Regions from separate parts of the Homo sapiens genome. Here all the other regions are linked to region 1. Evidence: fine-mapped expression QTL. A gene starts in region 1. Each other region holds a variant in brackets. All regions are shown on one strand. Distances are between the middles of the regions. Region 1 holds the start of CD72 (CD72 molecule). Region 2 has its middle 12 kb from the start of SIT1. Region 3 has its middle 20 kb from the start of CIMIP2B.

The links. PIP is the estimated chance that this variant, and not a neighbour inherited with it, causes the effect. A credible set is the group of variants that fine-mapping cannot tell apart.
Region 2: its variant is the best candidate, but not a certain one, in a credible set for the expression of CD72 in whole blood (INTERVAL, PIP 0.63).
Region 3: its variant is the best candidate, but not a certain one, in a credible set for the expression of CD72 in whole blood (INTERVAL, PIP 0.62).

What each region holds. Positions count from the first base shown.
Region 1 is chr9:35,616,217-35,620,454 of GRCh38, forward strand. It overlaps CD72 (CD72 molecule), which reads right to left and starts at 2,197. Exons shown (of 9, transcript NM_001782.3): 1 at 2,006-2,197; 2 at 1,798-1,905; 3 at 960-1,031; 4 at 384-473; 5 at 1-62. The coding sequence starts at 2,087. RefSeq lists enhancers at 1-612, 1,052-1,201.
Region 2 is chr9:35,636,982-35,641,219 of GRCh38, forward strand. It overlaps a transcript of CD72 not described here. Among named protein-coding and RNA genes, the nearest start is that of SIT1, 12 kb to the right of the region's middle. The variant CT/C (reference allele first, on the strand shown) is at 2,043.
Region 3 is chr9:35,582,167-35,586,404 of GRCh38, forward strand. No RefSeq gene overlaps it. Among named protein-coding and RNA genes, the nearest start is that of CIMIP2B, 20 kb to the left of the region's middle. The variant C/T (reference allele first, on the strand shown) is at 2,198.

The DNA.
Region 1 (4,238 bases):
GCTGCTGTTAGTGACTTCCAGAACCCTGTTCGTCTGCTGGAGCTGCTGAGACACCTGCAGATCTGTTTGGCCACAGAGATTTGGTGGATGTCTTCTCCAGCCCTGCCCTAGTGCCCTGAGACTGCAGCATCAGCCCTTTTTCTGCTTCTTGCAACTTTTTGCATCACAGGCTGAAATACAAGATTTGACTGACTAAAGCGTAAGGAGGTACTGGATTAGGTGAGGACAATTCAGGAAGACAACAGCCCTGGCTGGAAACCAAACCCAAAGCTAAGGAGGTGGTGGTAGTGACTATGATCCCTGCTGAGGAAGATCAGCTTTGGGGCGAGAGTCGGGACGAAAGTCGTTCGGTGTAAGTGGGAAGTAGGGACAGCCTTACTCACAGCGCACTCCCAGGCAGATGGCGGTCACTCCTAACAGCAGGCAGGTGAGGAGCAGGCCGAGCAGGAGGTATCGCAGGCAGGTTGTGCGGCCTTAGGGGGACAGTGGGATGGATGAGGGCAGTCAGCCCCCGTAAAGAATGTAGAGAGGAAGGGACAGGTCCGTGGGGGAGACCCCTGGGGAAGGCATCCCTAAGAGGAGGGCGGTGCAGAGCTGAGGGGGCAAGCATGGTGGTTTCTGTCGGGTAGCGGGGTGTTTCGCAGGTAGGGGAGAGGGTGTTCCAGAATCAGTGCTGGTGGGGACTCGGGGGCGTTACCTGGGAGAAGGGGAAGGAAATATCAGACGGAGAGAGGGGAAGGGGGGCAGGTAGGTGAATTGGGACCATCCGCAGGGGGGCGGTGCACGTCGGATTCAGGCGCACCGGATGAAGGTGAATGTGGCACGGCAGCCCGGGCGTCGGAAGGACTGCGCCCGGGTTTATCCCGGAAGGAGCTGCACCCCGCGGGGCCCAGCGCCATCCGCAGCCGGGACAGGCGCGAGCACTTGGCCCCGCGGCTGCCCCGCACAGGCACACTCACAGGGGAGAATCCGCCCGACAGCTGGTGACGTCACGGCTCTCCAGGACGCAGTTGGCTGCTCCGACTTGACCGCTGTCGAGGGGAGCATCCAGTGTGAGACCGGAAGCCCCGAGTGTTGCCCCTTCTCCTCCTGCGCACCCGCTTCGCCCTCGCCACTGGGAAACTCCAGTCTGCCCTACGTTGCCTGCTAGAGCTGCTCTGGGACACAGTGTCACTCTCCTGAGTTCCTCCTCTGCCCGGGACTCTCTCGGCTTCCTCCTGGGTCTCACTGTATCTTTTCCCGGGACCCCCTCATCTCTCCTAGTTCTCCCTTTATCGTTTCCTCAGAGGCCCCTTATCTGTCGGCTCCAAACCCTCTCCCCCTTTGCTCTCATCCATCTCCCATCACCTCTTTTCCCTCCCATGGCTCCCCGTTTCCCATTAGAACTCATCCCCCACAGGGCTGCCCTATCCCTCCGCAGCCCTTATCTCCCCGAAAGGGGTCTCCACCTTGCGGGAGGAATCTTTCTTCCTCCCCTGGCTCCCATTTATCCTGTTCCTATTCTTCTGTTTCCTAAGAACCGCCCTCCTCCTTTCCCCAGGGTATTGTGCTCTCAAGAATACTGAGGGCCATGGCATGGGGGCGCACGCCTGCAATCCCAACACTTTGGGAGGCCAGGGCAGGAGGATCACTTGAGCCCAGGAGGTCGAGGCTGCAGTGAGCCATGATCACACCACTGCACTCCAGCCTGAGTGACAGAACAAGACCCTGTCTCAAGAACAACAACAAAAACATTGTGGACTCCCCAGCTCAAGACACAGCCCCCCAACAAACACACATCCCCCAGGCTCTCCAGACCTGCTTTGTCCCCTAGTACAGAAGAAGCCAAGCTTGAGGGCACCCCTAGGACTGCGGGCACTTGAACATTCTCGTAGGTGATTTCCCCATCATCATCAGCCCCTGGGTCTAGAGAGAAGAGAAAAGGGACCAAGGTGGGATTTGGGAATGGGATCTGTGGGGCGGGAAGTGGGGATGCAGGATCAAGGGGAGGCCTCATCCCCCTTACCCTGTCCTAACCGGCTGGAGATGCTCTTCTTCAGGGGAGCCTTCACAAACCTCAGATCTGCATAGGTGATGGCCTCAGCCATGGTCCTGAGCAGCTCTGCCCCCACTCGTCTTCCCTGTCATCCACTGTCCTCCCTTGCCCCTCTCGTCTCTGTCCGTTTACAACTAGGCTCTGTGTTCCCTCTGTGACTGCACGGCTTAGCAATTGGCCCTGTGACTTCCAGTCACAAAAGAGGAAGGTGTTAGCAAGTCTCAAACAGATGGGCTCAATGAAGCAGAAGGCATCCCTGGGCCAGGGCCAGAGGGGCCACGGAGGGGACGCTGAGGTCCAGAACACAGGGGTAGGGGATGGGCCTGTCCCCATGTCCTCCCTGTGCTTCCTCTCCATGCATCTTAAACCCATATGGGCCATGCTGGGCCCCAAACTCGGTCCTTCTGGTTATCTGCCCTGATCTGCCCCACCCTCCTCCTGGCTGCCTTGTCCACTGGGGCTTATGATGTGTAGCTGGAGCTGCACTGACCCAGACGATCTCCCCAGCTCCAGGGTGAGGCTCCGTTCTCCCCATGAGACTGGGGGTTCCTGGTTTGCATCCCTCGCTTCTCATCATCCTGGGGGTTCCAGTAACTGGGGGTTCAGGAACAGGCCTGGGCCAGAGGTGAAGGTAAGGAAGAGCCATGGCTGCAGCACCTCTGGAAAGGCAAGTGGCAGCACTGCCCCCCATGCACCCTCATGGGGAGCCAGGGAGCAGGTGAGCAAGGGAGTTGCAGAGGGCTTAAGAAGGCTGCAGCTTCCTAGGTGAAGTCAAGGCAGAGGAGCAGAACAGAGCCAGAGGCCGAGCGCAGATTCCGGACCAGCGGAGGTCTTGACATTTTCTTGGTTTGGTTTTGGTTCGTCTCTTACTTTCCTAGCAAAGTTCTTTCTTTAAAAAGTCCCAAAGCTGTCCCTTCCCACCCAGCCCCAAGGAAAAAGGGGGCATTTGTGGCGGAGGACCCAGGGACCGCGAGGCCCTCATAGGTGGTGGGGGCCTGGCTGATGGAGGAGAGAGGGAACCAGTTGGGGGAAAGGGGGCTGCTGAGCAGGGGTGCCCAAAGGTGCTCCCTAATGTTCTTTTACCGGGATGTGACCCCTACTAGGAACCCCAAAATGGCCTACATCCGGGATAGGAAGGAGCTAGAACAAGATGTAGTGTGGGGGTGGGAAGAACCCGCCCCTAGCAAAGTGACATCCGCCCCGCAGAATCCCCCTCCTGCAGCTGTGGGGAGGAAAAAGGAAGGGGGAAAAGGTCCTCACCACATGCCAACAGCTCGGATGATTGGTGGTGTGTGGCAGGACACTGCCAGGGACCCTAGAGCTCTGCCAATAGCTCCGCCCAGCCAGCCCTAGAGGAAGTGGCCACTGAGGCAAAGCTGTGACCTCAAAAATGTACTTGTAGAGAGGCACGTGTGCATGTGTGTGCATGGATATGCATGTTCCCAGGACTTTGCAGTCTGTTAGGGCATCTGTGAGGTGAGCGGCTATGTCAGAGCCTGCCTGGAGGAGGAAGCCTTCTGTGGGCTGAAGGCTGCCTGTGATCACTGTTATTTTCCATGGCAGAGAATGACGGGTCATTTTCAGAAAAGTCGTCAAAGGTCATCACAAGAGATCCTACAAGTATTTCCTTTTTGAAGCTCACTGTTTCCTAAGGTGCCTCTGCAGCTGTTAACTGTCCTTGCTTGATTAAAGTTTCCAACAACCTAGACCTTCCCCCAGATACAGAGAGTGGTATGTGGTGGTGACTCCCTGGGGACCTCAGGGGCCCTGAGAGTGAGTGGGAGGGTATAGAGCAGCTGGTGGCAGGGGTGGGTGGGGTGGGAAGAGTCAAATACTTGAACCTGTGGTGTACAGGGGGTGGGTGTGGGCAGTGTGTGAGTAAATCAATTGCAGGAACATTTGCAGGAGTTCCACAAACTGTAGAATGTCCCAGTTTTCAGATCCAATACACAGGTGAACATGATGTAGATGCCAGGTAAAATGCCAAAACCAAGCTTCTAGTCTGCACTCAAAAAGGTGTCTGTGGCCAACATAGTGAAACCCCGTCTCTACTACAAAATACAAAAAAATTAGCCTGGTGTGGTGGCTCGAACCTGTAGTCCCAGCTACTCAGGAGGCTGAGGCAGGAGAATCGCTTGAACCCAGGAGGTGGAGGTTGCAGTGAGCCAAGATCACACCATTGCACTCCAGCCTAGGCAACAAG
Region 2 (4,238 bases), 21 kb after region 1:
TAACTGATCAATTGACTTTGTGACAATACACCCTCCCCACCCTTGCGATAAGTACTTTGTGATATTCCCCCACCCTTGTGAATGTACTTTGTACGATACACCCTCCCCACCCTTAAGAAGGTACTTTGTAATATTCTCCCCACGCTTGAGAACGTACTTTGTAAGAAGATCTACCCCCTGCCCGCAAAAAATTGCTCCTAACTCTATCGCCTATCCCAAAACTATAAAAACTAATGATAATCCCATCACCCTTTGCTGACTCTCTATTCGGACTCAGCCCGCCTGCACCCAGGTGAAATAAACAGCCTTATTGCTCACACAAAGCCTGTTTGGTGGTCTCTTCACACAGACGTGCATGGCATTTGGTGCTGAAGACCCGGGACAGGAGGACTCCTTCGGGAGGCGGGTCCCCTGTCCTCGCCCTAACTCTGTGAGGAGATCCACCTACAACCTCGGGTCCTCAGACCAACCAGCCCAAGGAACATCTCACCAATTTCAAATTGGGTAAGCGGTCTTTTCACTCTCTTCTCCAGCCTCTCTTGCTACCCTTCAATCTCCCTCTCTTGCTACCCTTCAATCTCCCTGTCCTTCCAATTCCAGTTCTTTTTCCTCTCTAGTAGAGACAAAGGAGACACATTTTATCTGTGGACCCAAAACTCCGGCGCTGGTCATGGACTCAGGAAGACAGCCTTCCCTTGGTGTCTAATCACTGCGGGGATGCCTGCCTGATTATTCACCCACATTTCATTGGTGTCTGATCACCACGGGGATGCCTGCCTTGGTCATTCACCCACATTCCCTTGGTGGCAAGTCAATTGTGGGGACGCCTGCTTTGGCTGCTCACCCACATTGCAGCCCAGGGCTGCTCATCACCCCCTGCTCCGTGTCTCTACCTTTCTCTTTAAACTTACCTCCTTCACTATGGGCAACCTTCCACCCTCGATTCCCCCATCTTTTCCCTTAGCCTGTGTTCTTGAAAACCCCTTCAACTCACACCTGACCTAAAACCTAAATGCCTTATTTTCTTCTGCAATACCACTTGGCCCCAATACAAACTCGAAAATAGTTCCAAGTGGCCAGAGAACGGCACTGTCAATTTGTCTATCCTACAAGACCTAGATAATTTTTGTCGAAAAATGGGCAAATGGTCGGAGGTGCCGTACATCCGGGCGTCTTTCACACTTCATTCTCTCCCTAGTCTCTGTTCCCAATGCGACTTGTCCCAAATCCTCCTTCTTTCCCTCCCACCTGTCCCTTCAGTCCCAACCCCAAGTGTTGCTGGGTCTTTTGAATCTTCCTTTTCTACCGACCCATCTGACCTCTCCCCTCCTCCCCAGACTGCTCCTCCTCAGGTCGCTCCCCACCAGGCTGAATCAGGCTCCAGCTCCTCTTCAGCCTCCGCTCCCCCACCCTATAACCCTTCTATCACCTCCCCTCCTCACACCCAGTCTGGCTTACAGTTTTGTTCTGCGACTAGCTCTCCCCCACCTGCCCAACAATTTCCTCTTAGAGAAGTGGCTGGAGCTGAAGGCATAGTCTGGGTACATGCGCCTTTTTCTGTATCAGACTTTTCCCAAATCAGCCAGTGTTTGGGCTCTTTCTCATCAGACCCCGCTAAATATATACAGGAATTCCGATATCTAACTCTGTCCTGCAAGTTAACCTGCAGTGACTTAAATGTCATCCTGACTTCCACCCTCTCCCCAGATGAACAGGAAAGAGTTTTTTCTCTAGCCCAGTCTCACGCTGACAACCGCTGGCTTCATGAGCCAGGCCTCCAGGAAGGCATCAGAGCAGTTCCCCGAGAGGACCCCCAAAGGAACTATCAGGCAGATTCCCCAGGTATAGCTAGGCGAGATTACATGATTTCCTGCCTAGTTGAAGGGCTTAAAAAGGCAGCACACAAAGCTGTTAATTCTGACAAGCTAAAGGAAACTACCCAAGGTAAAGGCGAAAACCCAGCCCAGTTCCTGGCCCGCTTGGCAGCAACCCTTAGACGCTTTACCGCCCTAGACCCAGAGGGGCCGGAAGGCCGCCTTATT[CT/C]TTTTTTTTTTTTTTAGATGTATTTTACTTTTATTTTTTTAATCTTTGGGCACAAAGATTTGACACATTATTTCAAAAGAATACAACTACTCATCCAGTAGGAATAAATTCAACAAACATTAATTGATGAGCAAAGTACTGGCTTTAAAAAAATAAACTAAGTAAATTTTTTTTCCCTTGGGTAATAAAATAATAATAAAAGAAGAGACATTGGGTTAAGCACCCTTAGGGCAAAATAAAAATGCAATTGGTTTCTCAAAAACTTGCTTTTGACATCTCAAAAAAAGTCATGCTAGGGAAATGAGCTAAGAAAGCACATTGTTATTTGTACGTGGTAGTGTGACATCCTTGCCATGTTGAAGGTAAGACCATCTAAAGGTCAAGACAGTACACAGAGACTATAAAAACAAAATTGAAATAAAAAGCAGGATAATAAAATGAAAGGAAAAGTAGAAACTGCCAGAAAGAAGCAGAAGCAGCACAACTGTCAAGGAGACAGTGTAAATTCAGATGCCATCAAGCTTTACCACAAAGAGATAAAGGAAAAGGCCAATTTTGATGACAAATGACAAAGTGTAACATCCAAAGAGAAATGGAGAAAAAAGAGGTCATCTGTCCTCCTGTGAACATTTGAATAGTTCTCAGATACACTTAGTTTGAGCAGAATTATGTGATTACTGAGTTCTTCCCTCTCTGCTTGGCAAAAATGATGGAAGTCTTGTCTCCAATTTTAACCCTATTTGCCTTTTTGCAACAATATGGCAGGTTGTTTACATGCTGGCTGGGGAAAGGGAAACTAAGAGTAAAAACCAACCAGTTGTTACTTTGCAAAATGGAAATGTAACTCTGAGGATTAAGCAATCTTGACTGCTAACAAAATTAATTCCTGAACACCATGAAAAAGGAAAAAATACATAGAAATTGATATTTTAAACGTTAAATATTCAGCAGTTTCTCTTATTTGGCAAAATCTTTTTGAAGCAAAGCTGATCTCATTTTGGTTTAGATCACATCAAAGAATTTCCACCAAAAATGACTGAATTATTGCTATTTACTAAAATGGTTTTCATTCTGTGACATTTTTCTGTTTCAACCAAAATTGGTGTACTAAAAGCCATTTCTGGCACTGACCATCTACAGTTAGTGCAGACTCCATAAGTTAAGGGCTTAATCCTTCACAAATCTTCTCTTCAGATTCCAGCTGTACTTTGGGGGTCCCCAGGTCACCCACACTTCTGAACAACTAGCTATAAATTTGGTGATTCCCATGACCCTGTTAGTGTTACCGTGGGTCTTTGCTCACAGAGCTCCCAAGATGGTGGTGAGCCGCTTCCAAGATGGTGGCAAGCCTTGTGTTCTCTGACTTGGGGTTCTTGGCCTCACGGATTCCAAGGAATGGAATCTTGGGCCATGCGATGAGTGTTATAGCTCTATTAGAAGCCGTGGGTCACGGAAGAGAACTGTGGAACCCAGTGACTAGTGTTCAGCTCGATTAGGACGAACCCAGGCACTTAGCCGTGCAAGAACAATGGGAAGCCTTTAGCACGATCGGGAGTGGCAATGGGAGTCTCACTGGGTCAGGAGCACAGCAGACACCCTGCCGGATCTGGAGGGATGGGAGTCAGCAGCAGGATGGGAGTCAGCGGCAGGTCTGCGACAGTGGCAAACAGCAGTGGTGGACGGGGAGCGAAAGCTCAGCTCGAGCCGTAACAAACATGGACCAGAAGAGTGCAGTTGCAAGATTTAATAGAGTGAAAACAGAGCTCCCATACAAAGGGAGGGGACCCAAAGGGGGTTGCCATTGCCGGCTTGAATGCCCGGGTTTATATCCCGATCCTTGTCCCTCCTGCTGTGCTCTCAGGCAAAAGGTGATTGGCTATTTCTTTACCTCCTGTTTTTGCCTAATTAGCATTTTAGTGAGCTCTCTGATTGGTTGGGTGTGAGCTAAGTGGCAAGCCCCATGTTTAAAGGTGGATGCAGTCACCTTCCCAGCTACGCTTAGGGATTCTTAGTCGGCCTAGGAAATCCAGCTAGTCTTGTCTCTCAGTGCCCCCTCTCAACAGGAAAACCCAAGTGCTGTTGGGGAGGTTGGCTGATGACCGCTGTAACTGCTTCCTGCTGAATTGGGGCATAGTAGGGGTTGCACAGTTGAGATTTCCTCGGGGGGGGTGCCTTCGATGTCATTAACATCGGAG
Region 3 (4,238 bases), 34 kb before region 1:
AGCAATAGCATGAGCGATCCGTGCCTTAAGGACATGTTGCTGCTGCAGATAACTAGCCAGAGCCCATTCCTTTGTTTCGGCCCATCCCTTTGTTTCCTGTAAGGAATACTTTTAGTTAATCTATAATCTATAGAAATAATGCTTATCACTGGCTTGCTGTCAATAAATATGTGGGTCAAACTCTGTTTGGGGCTCTCAGCTCTGCAGGCTGTTGAGTCCCCTGATTTCCCACTCCACACTACATATTTCTGTGTGTGTGTCTTTAATTCCTCCAGCACGGCTGGGTTAGGGTCTCCACGACGGAGCTGGTCTCAGCAAGTGGGGCTCGAACCCAGATCGAAGGGTTGCCGGAGCAATGGTTGGAGAATGTGGAACTAAGCTGGAGGACACCCAAGTACTCTTAAGCAATCCCTGTAGTGAGTAAGAAGGGGAGCTCAGAAGCATCAGGGTAACAATGGGACAAGTGTGGGCTCTGGTTCGTCCCACCTTGGAACCTTTTCACACTGATGATGAGGAGGAAGGAGAGTATAACAAAGTAACAGAAAAGGTAACAGAGCAGGTTTGTTTGCCAGCTAAAGCTAAAGAGGCAAAGGAGGAAGAGTTCATCCCTACCTTTCTGCACTCCCTCCTTATTTTGAAGAAAAAGAGCAGCCTGACCCTCCAGATCTTTCTTTTACGGAGGACACTGGGCGAAAAGTAGTTGCCCCAGTGACTGTTCGAGCAGCTCTTCGAGTGACTGCTGTCAGTTCTATTCAGGCAGGAATCCAGCAAGCTAGAAGAGAGGGTGATATAGGCCGGAACTGGTGGCTCACACCTGTAATCCCAGCACTTTGGGAGGCTGAGGTGGGCGGATCACGAGGTCAGGAGATCGAGACCATCCTGGCTAACACAGTGAAACCCCGTCTCTACTAAAAATACAAAAAAAATTAGCCGGGCATGGTGGCGGGCTCCTGTAGTCCCAGCTACTGGGGAGGCTGAGGCAGGAGAACGGCATGAACCTGGGAGGCAGAGCTTGCAGTGAGCAGAGATCGTGCCACTGCACTCCAGCCTGTGTGACAGAGTGAGACCCGTTTCAAAAAAAAAAAAAAAGAAAGAAAAGGAGAGGGTGATATAGAGGCTTGGCAGTTCCCTGTTAGGATATACCCCCCAGATCAACAGAGAAATATTATAGCTATATTTGAGGCTTTTCTCTTTAAATTACTTAAAGAGTTTAAACAGGCTATCAGTATGAACCAGGTATATGCCTGAAGTGTAAAAAAGGAAAACATTGGGCCAATCAGCATCATTCTAAATTTGATAAGGATGGAAACCCAATTTCGGGAAATGCCATGAGGGGCCCGTTCAGGGCCCGTCCCAGGCCCGTTCCAAACCGGGGCATTTCCGGCTCAGGCCATTCCCTCACCCCTATACAATGTCTGTCCCCTGCCACAGCCGGTAGTGCCGCAGTAGATTTATGCTGCACAAAAGCTGTGGAGCCTTCTGCCTGGGGAACCTCTGCAAAAAAGTTCCAACAGGGGTCTGTGGACCCTTGCCAGCTGGGACAATAGGATTACTTCTAGACAGGTCTAGTTTAAATTTAAAAGGAGTGCAAGTACAAACAGGAGTCACTGATTCACATTACAATGGGGAAATTCACGTTGTTATATCTACTTCTGTTCCCTGGAAAGCAGAGCCAGGACAGCATATAACACAACTCCTGATTGTGCCATATGTAGAAATGGGGAAAAGTGAAATTAAATGAACAGGAGGATTTGGAAGCACAAATAAACAAGGCAAAGCAGTTTATTGGGTGAATCAAATTACTGATAAACATCCTACCTGTGAAATAACTATTCAGGGAAAGAAATTTAAAGGTTTGGTAGATACAGGAGTGGACGTTTCAATCATTTATCTACAGCACTGGCCGTCCACGTGGCCAATTCAACCCGCTCAATTTAACATAGTTGGAGTTGGTAAAGCCCCTGAAGTATATTAAAGTAGTTATATTTTGCATTGTGAAGGGCCCAATGGACAACCTGGACTATTCAACCAATTATAACTTCTGTACCTATAAATTTATTACAACAATGGGGAGCACAAGTTCTAATTCCAGAACAATTATACAGCCCTCAAAGTCAACATATGATGCATAAAATGGGGTATGTTCCTGGTACGGGACTAGGAAAAAATTTGCAAAGTTCGAAGGAACCGCTTCAAG[C/T]GGAAAGACAAATTTCCCACCAAGGTTTAAGATTATTATTTTTGATGGCGGCCATTTTTAAGCCTCCAGAACCTATACCTTTAAAATGGTTAATGAATAAGCCAATTTGGATAGAACAATGGCCACTGAGTAAAGAGAAACTGGAGGCTTTAGAGGACTTAGTTACTGAACAATTAGAAAAAGAACACATAGCTCCAACATTTTCCCCTTGGAATTCTCCAGTTTTCATAATTAAGAAAAAATCAGGTAAATGGAGAATGTTAACTGACTTAAGGGCCATTAATTCAATTATACAACCTATGGGGACATTACAGCCAGGACTGCCTTCTCCTGCTATGATTCCAAAAAACTGGTCTTTAATAGTCATAGATTTAAAAGACTGTTTCTTTACTATCCCCTTAGCTAAGCAAGACTGAATGGTTTGCATTTACAATTCTTGCAGTAAACAACCTGCAGCCTGCTAAGCATTTTCATTAGAAAGTGTTGCCTCAAGGCATGTTGAACAGTCCAACAATTTGCCAGACTTATGTAAGACAAGCAATTGAACCGACTCGTAAAAAATTTCCACAGTGTTACATTACTCATTGTATAGAAGATATAATTTGTGCTGCCCCCACTCGAGAAATATTACTCCAATGTTATGATCACTTGCAAAACTTGATTTTTCCTGCCAGTTTAATTATAGCCCCTGACAAATTTCAGACTACTACTCCTTACTCCTACTTGGGGACCTTAGTAAATGACACTACAATTGTGCCACAGAAAGTAACCATACGTAGAGATCAATTGAAAACATTAAATGACTTTCAAAAATGACTAAAGACCATTAATTGGACACAACCTGCTCTAGGCATTCCTACCTATGCCATGAGTAATCTATTTTCTATCCTTAGAGGAGATCTTAGTCTCACTAGCCCTCAACAATTAACAAAGGAGGCTGAGGCAGAGTTACAGCTGATTAAAAAGCAAGTCCATAAGGCCTACCCGGAAAAATCTCACTGCCTCTCCCCAGACTATTACTTGTTAGATGGAACTCTCCCCCACTTAATGGGTTCCACCTGAACCCCCTCACTGCTATTATGTGGACCTGGAAAGTTGGGTATCTATACTTCTAGTGCACTAATGATTCTATCTTTGGCACCCAGTGTTGTGTTAATGACACAAAAGCCAAGTTTCCTGCAATGCTCTGATCCAGCCTTAGTTGCCAAGTTCCCAATGCCACAGCAAAGTAAATGGGATAGAACTTGTAAGCAATGAGACCATCTATGGTTCCTTCCCCTGGATCAGAACATACAGGAGAAAAAAAAAAAGGAACACATGGGAGAAAAACAACTATTTAGTCTGGGAAGGTGGGAGTACCTCCTCCCCTTTTGGAAAACAAAGATTGTTCAACCACCCCAATTAGAACAGGGAAAAATATCTCTATAGACACAACTTGGCAGCAAAGGGTAGGCATCGCACCCCGTAGGGACCCTGTTTGTGCTCCAACTGGGCTTGTTTTTGTTTGTGGCCATGAGTGGGAAGAAGTCATGCCCTGTAACCACTCCTGACTCCCTGGGGAGTCACCTGTTCTTTTAAGAATAGCTTTCCCTTGTATATCAAAAACATGAAACAGAGGTGACTGTATGTTGGCCACCCTTTCCCCTCCAGGAGTCACACAGTCTATAACCCCGTAAGACCCAAGAACACCAGAAATAAATGAGCAATAGTGTTACTGGTTGAGGGTAGTTGTCCAGGTTCTTGGCGTTTTGAACAAATAATCAGACAAAACACACAAAGCAAGGCAGTAAAAGCAGAAACTTATTTTAAGTAAAAGCACACCCCATAGGGTAGGAGTGGGCTCAAGCAAGTGGCTCAAGAGCATCAGTTACAGAATTTTCTGGGGTTTAAATACCCTCTAGAGACCAGGCGTGGTGGCTCACACCTGTAATCTCAGCACTTTGGGAGGCCAAGGCGAGTGGATCACCTGAGGTCAGGAGTTCCAGACAAGCCTGACCAACATGGTAAAACCCCATCTCTACTAAAAATACAAAATTAGCTG